Linked DNA regions of Homo sapiens: region 1 is linked to region 2. Evidence: fine-mapped QTL for protein levels in blood plasma. Region 2 holds a variant in brackets. A gene starts in the other region. All regions are shown on their forward strands.

Evidence for each region. PIP is the chance, under the fine-mapping model, that this variant and not a neighbour inherited with it causes the effect. The UK Biobank Pharma Proteomics Project read protein levels with antibody pairs (Olink). The fine-mapping took linkage between variants from a reference panel, not from the people measured, so its PIPs are less certain.
Region 1: it holds the start of CLEC4G, and the variant in region 2 is fine-mapped to the plasma level of the CLEC4G protein (UK Biobank, PIP 0.99).

Annotation. Positions count from the first base shown.
Region 1 is chr19:7,731,044-7,733,644 of GRCh38, forward strand. CLEC4G (C-type lectin domain family 4 member G) reads right to left here and starts at 1,067. Exons shown (of 9, transcript NM_198492.4): 1 at 1,005-1,067; 2 at 618-728; 3 at 223-276; 4 at 1-45. The coding sequence starts at 1,059. RefSeq lists promoters at 1,062-1,668, 1,062-1,374, 1,062-1,325 and a cis regulatory region at 1,132-1,141.
Region 2 is chr11:89,480,826-89,486,367 of GRCh38, forward strand. The region is part of intron 2 of NOX4 (NADPH oxidase 4); the gene reads right to left. Among named protein-coding and RNA genes, the nearest start is that of NOX4, 7.8 kb to the right of the region's middle. The variant T/A (reference allele first, on the strand shown) is at 2,432.

The DNA of each region.
Region 1 (2,601 bases), not on the chromosome of region 2:
CGACCTCCTCCTTCAGGGCACCCAGCGCCGCCGTCTGCTTCGAGGCTGGAACGACCCCCGCCCCAAAATGCATGCCCCTCGGGTCACTTGGGAGGACTCAGGGGACCCCCTTCCAGCCTCAGGGACCATAGGGCCCCCACGCACTCGAGACTCCATCTCCGGGGTCTCAGAAACTCCCGCCCCTCACGCCCCGGGGGCCCAGGCGCCCGGCTCTGCACACACCGTTTGTCCTCAGCAGGTCGTGGCCGTCAAGCAGCGCCGCGCGCTCCGTGGAGGCTGAGGAGAGAGGCTCCTGCAGGCGAGGCCGGGAACTCGGGAATCCTCCCCTCGCCCGGGGGGTGCAGCGTCCCCCAACTCGGGAGCACGGAGCGGGCGGGCAGGCATACAGCTCACACGATGTGCACACACGCCGATGGGAGACAAACGCGCGGGGACTCGCGCACATACGAGCACGCCATGTGCACACGCGTGAGTGCACACGGCCCAAAGATGTACACACACTCTGCTCACACTCAGACGCGAACAGGACCCCAGGATGCAGCTGGTGCGCCATGCAGTGGGGGTTTTCTGTCCCCAGGGGGGCCGGATGCAACACCTCCCCATTGAGAGTCACTCACCCTTGGACAATAGGATACTCAGAATCACAGCCCAAAGGACTGTGGTGACCAGGACAGCCAGGGCCAAGAAGAGGGGTCTCCTGCTCCAGTGCACCCAGCGTCCCCAGGGCCCTGGCATAACAAGGACGGCATGCTGGGTCCCCCAGAACTGAGCCCTGGAGGCCTGAGTTACTCCCAGGAAACTGAGATTCAGAGAAGTTAAGTAACTTGCCTATGGTCACACAGCTTCTAAGCGGCAGAGTTGGAATTGGACCCTGGTCCAACTGGCTCTATGGCCTGTGGTGTCTCTCCTGCACCCACAACCCTGGCCTGTCTCGACTCTTCCCTCCCCTCCCCCATCAAACCCCAGACACTGGGGCAGGGATGGGGCAGTCTCCTTGCTCATACCTCCGGGGACCTCCTCGGAGCTGCCGCCCCACTTGCTGTACCTGGTGGTGTCCATGGCGATGCAGGCACCCAGTCCTGGGCAGAGATATAAATTTCACGCCTGTTCTCACTGGACCTACGCACTCCCTTCCTTCCTTCCCATTTTCTTGGCCTTAATTCCTGGCAACGGGAACCCATGGACCAATCACAGGATTGGGCCCTTTCAAGGCTGGGCTGGGCTGGGCTGGAGTGAGGCCGGGCGGTTCCAGCCTCCTGGTTCTGGCCACTGCAGCTCCATCCCCAGGCTGGTGCTGGAGGCTTCTCTTTGGAGCTTAGTCACCATCTCTTATGGGCCTGGGGCTGGAGGCTTCTCTTTGGAGCTTAGTCACCATCTCTTATGGGCCTGGGGCTGGGTTTTATCCCGCGAGGGACACACTGAACCCGACCAAATTGTAACCCCTGCTGGCTCCTGAGAAAGCCCCCTCAGGCATAGCCCCCCAGGCCAGTTCAGGTCCCTTCTCAACTCCCCTGCAGGTGCCTGCAGAGGCTGGGTTTGAACCTGACCTTGATCCAGTCCCTCTGTACCAGAAGGGAACAAACAGTTTTGTTAGGGAGGTAGCCGGCGGAGCTGCAGGACTCTACCACTGTATGGGTTCTAGGTAGCTTCTAGAAGCCTTAGTTTTCCCCACTGTAAAGGAGATAGCGATGGGCCTCTCTCACAAAGATGCTATGATAAAGAAACAAGACAGTCTTGCTGGCTCACACCTGTAATCCCAGCACTTTGGGAGGCCGACATGGAAGGATCACTGAGCCCAGGAGTTCCAGACCAGACCAGCCTGGGCAATATAACAAGACCCTCATTTCTGAAAAAAAAAAAAAAATATATATATATATATATATATGAAAACAAAAATTGAAAAAATAAAAAAATAAAGACAATGAGGTTATACATGTCTACCTAGCACCATTTCAGGCATATCAAAAACACTCAGTGTTCATGCATTCTTTCAACAAACATTGAGCACCTGCCATATGCCAGGCATTGATCTTGGAACTGGGGCCACATCAGAGAGTAAAATAAGCAAATTCCTCTCTTCTTGGAGCTAATATTCTAGAAGTGTGGGGAGACAGACTCCATACTCAACGTAATAAACATAATTGAAAACATAAGTTGTATAGCATAGTAGTTCCCAGCTGGGGGCAATTACGCCCACCAGGGGACATTTGGCTATGTCTGGAGACACTTTTGGTTGTCACAGAATGTGTGTGTGTGTGTGTGTGTGTGTGTGTGTGTGCTCCAGGCATCTAGTGGGTAGAGGCCAGGGATGCTGCGCAAAGCCCTACAATGCCTAAGACATCCCCCATAGCAAAGAATGATCTGACTCCTAATGTCCATAGTGCAAAAGGTGGGAACCGTAGTATACTCTATTCAAAAGTCATAAATGCTATGAAAAAACATTAAGGGAAGAAAAAATCCAGTAGGATAAGTACTTGGCAGGACTGGGATGGGCACTAGGCAGTGGGCAGTGGCTAGGGTGGCCAGGGCCAGCCTCACTGACAAGGTGAAATGTTGAGCACTTAATAGAATGTTCCAGCCCCTCTTGTAGATATGTAAACA
Region 2 (5,542 bases):
ATAGGTAATTTATCTTATTTATCTGTTGAAATTCCAAGATTCAGTGAAGATTAATAAAAAGTATTAAGTAATGTTTTGTTGAATGAAATATGTTCCACCTCAAACTAAAATTCCACCCAAGAATCATAGCCAAATTGCCACAAACTTTTTGCCAATAGCAAATAGCAGTAAATAGCCTTCCTCTCTCCAGAGGATCAGGGAGGCAGCCAAAGGTCAACCAAAGGACTGAAGGTAACATGTTCCTACTGACGAGCAAACATACAACCTCATCATCAAACAGCCATTTATTAAGCACCCTTGTGAGCACTGAAATAATAGATCAAAGGGTAAATCTCTGTCCTAGGTGTCATCTCATATGCTCAGCATCTGTATGCTCAGCAAATCCCTTCCATCTTTATGTCTCTGAATTCTTTTTAACATATATATGTTATATATATATGTGTGTGTGTATATATATATACACAATACAATATTACCATTTGGTTCTATTCATAATATTGATGCCATTAATACTAATTACCATTATTTAATATTTATAGTAATAGTTATCAATTTGCTGAATGCCTATGTACCAAGTGCTAAGCACTTCACCTGCATTTTCTCATGTTGTCCTTCCATCTAAACTAAGAGTAGGGCTTAAGCCCTATTTTATGAGTAGGGTTTACACCTAGGCTGAGAGAATAGTATATCAAAATCACAAAGGGAGAGAAATGCTTAACCACAATTGAAATTCATATCCATATGGCTCCAAAGCCCATGACCTTTTCAGTAAGAAATTATAATTATTTTTCTCTCCAGAATTACTTAGGCAATTTTAAAATCAGTTTTATGATAAACACAATGCTTAGCATGATAGACATGAAGAAACACTGACCAGGAGTTAGAGGACCTACATTCCACATTCAGCTTTGCACTGAGTCCATAAAGAAAGCATTTAACTATATGAAATTCATCCATCAAACAGGGTAAATGGACTAGAACAGTCCACAGTTCTACAGGCTCCTCTCCCTCCAGGCTGAGCATTGCCCAGAAGAAAGTATATACAACTATGACTAGGACTAGGGCTACGACGACTGCTACTATTATTGGCCTCAGTGGTGTGCAAGGTAAAGTAGTTCCTCAATATTCCCTACTTCCTTTTCTGGGAGTCAGTTCCCTGAATTCATACTCTTGATGCCAAGATCTAAAAAATCAAAATAAAATATTGATGCTACTCCTCAGAGGTGCTAATTTATCTGATTTTCTTCTTTGAGGTAATGGAGGGAATAAAGGGTTGTGTAAGAGCATGTTTAAAATAGTTGTAGGGTAGGGCTAAGAATAAAGCTCGACAAACCTCTAAGGAGGAACATTACAATACCTTCCTAAAAAGGCCTGGGAAGGACCCTTTTGCCATGTCATTCTGGAATGCTAGTGCTCAGCTGGGCTTCTACAATTAAGGAGAAAAAAAAATACATTAACTTCAAATTAATTTCTCAAAATGCATGCTTAGCTTCCAGAGGAAGACTGACAAAGTTGGTATTTGTACCAAGTTGAATTTAACTCACAATGTAACTATATTTGGACACAATCTTTAAAGGGGTAATTAAGGTTAAATGAGGTCATTGGGATGGGCCCTAATCCAATATGACTGGTGCCCTTATAAGAAGAAATTAAGACATACACACAGAAGGAAGGCCATACAAAGACATTGGAAGAAGAAAGCCCTCTATAAGTCAAGGAGAGAGGCCCTCAGAAGAAACCAACCCTGCTGACACCTTCATCTTGGACTTCTAGTTTCTAGAACTATGAAGAAATTTCTTTCCTTTAAACCACCCAGTCTGTGGTACTTTGTTATGGCAGCCCTAGCAAACTAACAGAGTAGGTATTAGTTATACAAGTCCACCTCATATATAAGAATAATGCATATATGCTTGAATTTACTTCTGATCAAATACTTCTTAACAGATACAAAAAGCACACTAACATGCAAACAGCAAACAGAGGGAAACACAAACAGTATATTCAGCACCACCATGGCAAAATGTATAAGGACCTTAGACAACAGTAGAGAATTGCAGGTTCTAACACTATCTGTTTCAGAACCTCACCTGGAAAGCAGAGTGATTGAGAGCATGGTGTTCAGTTTCAGACAGGTGTGGGCTCAACCTGGGCTTCTCTACTAGTCAGCTATGTAACCTAACTACTCAGAAAGTTACCGAACCACTCAGAATCTCAGTTTCTCAATTCTGTAAAAAGCAAATAGTTCCTAATCTAAGCTTCTTAATTCTGTAAAAATCAATAATTCCTATATTCTACTGTTGTTACAAGGATTCAATTAAATATAAGGATTAAATGAGATTATAAAAGGGGCCAAGAACTGTGTCTGACACGTCATATATAATCAATAAATGGTAACAGTTGCTATTAGGTTGAGCCATATAAAATGGCTGAT[T/A]TTTGACTGTTTCTGATCTACCAATCTATATGATTCAACCTAATATTAATGTTGCAAAGAAACAACAGAGCACAATGGCTCAGAATACAAATTTGGTCAACAGATAAATGCATAAAGAAAACATGGTATGTATACATAATAGGATACTACTCAGCTTTACAAAAAAGAAGGAAATCCTGCCATTTGTGACAACATGAAAGGAGACCTGAAGGACATCAAGTTAAGTAAAATAAGCCAGGCACAGGAAGACAAATACCACATAATGTTACTTATATGTGTCATCTAAGAAAGAATGTAACCGAATTTACAGAAGTAGAGAGTAGAATGGTAGTTACCAGGTGCTGGTGGGGGTGGGAGGGGGTTGGGTAGCTGTTATTCAAAGGATACAAAATTTCAGATAGACAGGAAGAATAAGTTCAAGAGATCTATTGTACAACATGGTGACTATAGTTTATAACAATTTATTCTTGAAAATTGCTAAGACAGTAGATTTTCTGCTTTTATCACAAAAAAAGATAAGCATGTAAGGTAATATACATGGTAATTATCTTGACTTAGCCATTTCACAATATACACATATTTCAAAATATAATGTGGTACACAATAAATACAATTGGCATTTGTCAATTAAAATTTTATAAAACAAGAATACAAGTTCTGGAACCAGGATCTTTGGGCTTGAGTCCTGCTTCTGTCCCTCACTAGCAAGTTATAGAACCCCTCTAACTCAGTTTCTCAGCTACAAAACAAAAACTTGAAATCATGCCTTCCATACTATGGATGAGAGAATTAAATAAATTAATCAGTGCAAAGCTCTTAGACTAAAGTCTAGTATTAGCCAGTTATCACTGAGCACAATCTGTTATTGATATTATTCATATCATTTATTAAAAAATAAAGATTTGACTATCTTTGAGATTCATTCTAACTTCCAATTCTATGCTGTTTGGGATGATATTGATAAAGGAGAATTATGCAGTTAGCATTTAGCTATATATCACAACGAGGTTAAATATTGAGCCTTAGAATTCTGAAAAGTATTGTGAAATCAGAATAAATTTAAATAAAAATGCTCATAATTCCTTCACAATTTATTGGCAAGTCTCAAACAACTATAATACTAAAAATATATTTTATTTTGAGAGTAAATCAATCATTTTCGCTAGCTTCTTAAATTGCTAGACATTTTAAAGTATCATTTCACCTAAAATGTAAAGCTAGTAGTCCATACAGTGTGGGGTTTAAAATGTTCTTGCGTGTGTTCATACAGCTGTTCATTATAGTGGCTAATATTGGACTAAGGAGAACAATAGACTAAATAGTGACCAAGTCACTAATTCAGTAGGTGATAGTGAACAAATCACCTCAATCTCATTTTTCCATTTCGGAAAATGAAAAGTTAAGTAAAGATATCAAAGTTTCCTTCCAAGTCTAAAACTCTATGAATCAGTGTCTATTGTAAATAGATAAAGAATATAATTTCATCAAAGAAATATAACCCATTTCACCCATCAATAAACAAGAAAATTGTGTCTAAATAACAGAATGTTAAGAATAAAAACAAATAAGCAAAATAACACTCATCTAAAAATGTCCCCTGAATTGTTATCATAACATGTGCCTGAGCAACTCTAGCTAGTGATTTTACAGTCTGTATAATTAGGATTTAATGACCAAATCTCTTCTGAAAGTAACAGGGATCATATATTCATTCTCAGCAGAATTAAAGCTGCCCAGGCCAGCTGTGAAACTAACATTGACTTAAAATCCTAGATCCATTTGTCCAGAGACTCCAGTCTCTGACCTTAAGAAATTCACATGACATCAGATTTCTGTCTCTGTAAAATGTTATGATATAACTTCTAGGACTCTTGAGAGGGTAAATTAGTTAATGTTTCTAATGGATAATGATTGACTAAAGAAAGATAATCCCAGTGTTTCACTAGAAAGAATCTGAATGCTCAAGAGCATAGATATTTCAATAAAAGTTTAAAAAAAGCTTCAAGATCATGCAGCAGATCTAAAACAATATTTGTGAATAAAAGCAAAATAAAAATTAAAATCTTATCCTGACACCATGTGAATAACTAGTTTGAAATTGAATAGTTTGGAGGGAAAAATATAATATATATAACTAAGACACATTGAATATATATATATAACTAAGACACATTGAATCTGATATCATAAAATCATTCTCTTTTCAAGTTAAAATGTTTATGGGAATTACATGATATTCTTTAATTATTAAAATGTAAAAAACGCAACTCAAAACAGGTAAACATGAATTCAAGAGCTCCTATAAATGGTGTTTTGAGTTAAACTGCTCCAATATTTCCAAAAAAAGAAAAGAAAACTACATTTCTGAGAGTTGAACACAACCTGTTACTAATTTCTATAAAGTTCAGGCAACTACATTTTCCATTCTTGAAAATAAATAAATGAAAATGGATTTAATCTTAAGCAATCAATGAAGTGACTTATTTAAAAGGTTGCCATGGGGGAGTGGAGCAGGCTATTGTTTGGTTTGTTGGTTTGCTTGTTTCGGTGTTCATTTTGGCTTCTCTCAATAGATTTTTTTTTCCTCTTAGCTAATTTTAAGATTCCAAAACTCATGACATGTCACAATTAAACATCTCCTAGGAAGTGCACAGTCTGATTAGCACATTAACTCAGGCATAAACCAGCCATGACCACGTTGCCTCCACTCTGGATCAGACCAGTCTGGGGAAGGATAATCATGATGAGAACCCCCAATAAAACATATTAATCCCAATGTTATATTTTATCTTCTAGCAATTAAGATCTTATTTTTTCTATCAATTCGTATGTATTTTTTTTACTCTTTAATTTTATTACGAGAATAATAACCCAGAAATAAAAGTGGATACTCTAGTTCTGAGAAGTAAATACTTTCACCTTCATTCTCAAAGATTCCCACCTTCAGAAAACTCAGAAGATGAGACAGAAGTCAGGGAGATTTTTATAGTTCTATACCAATTTTATTTATTTATTTAAATAAATAAATAAATAAATTTATTTATTTAAATATTTATTTATTTATTTAGCTGTGTCACCCAGGCTGGAATGCAGTGGCCCAATCATAGCTCA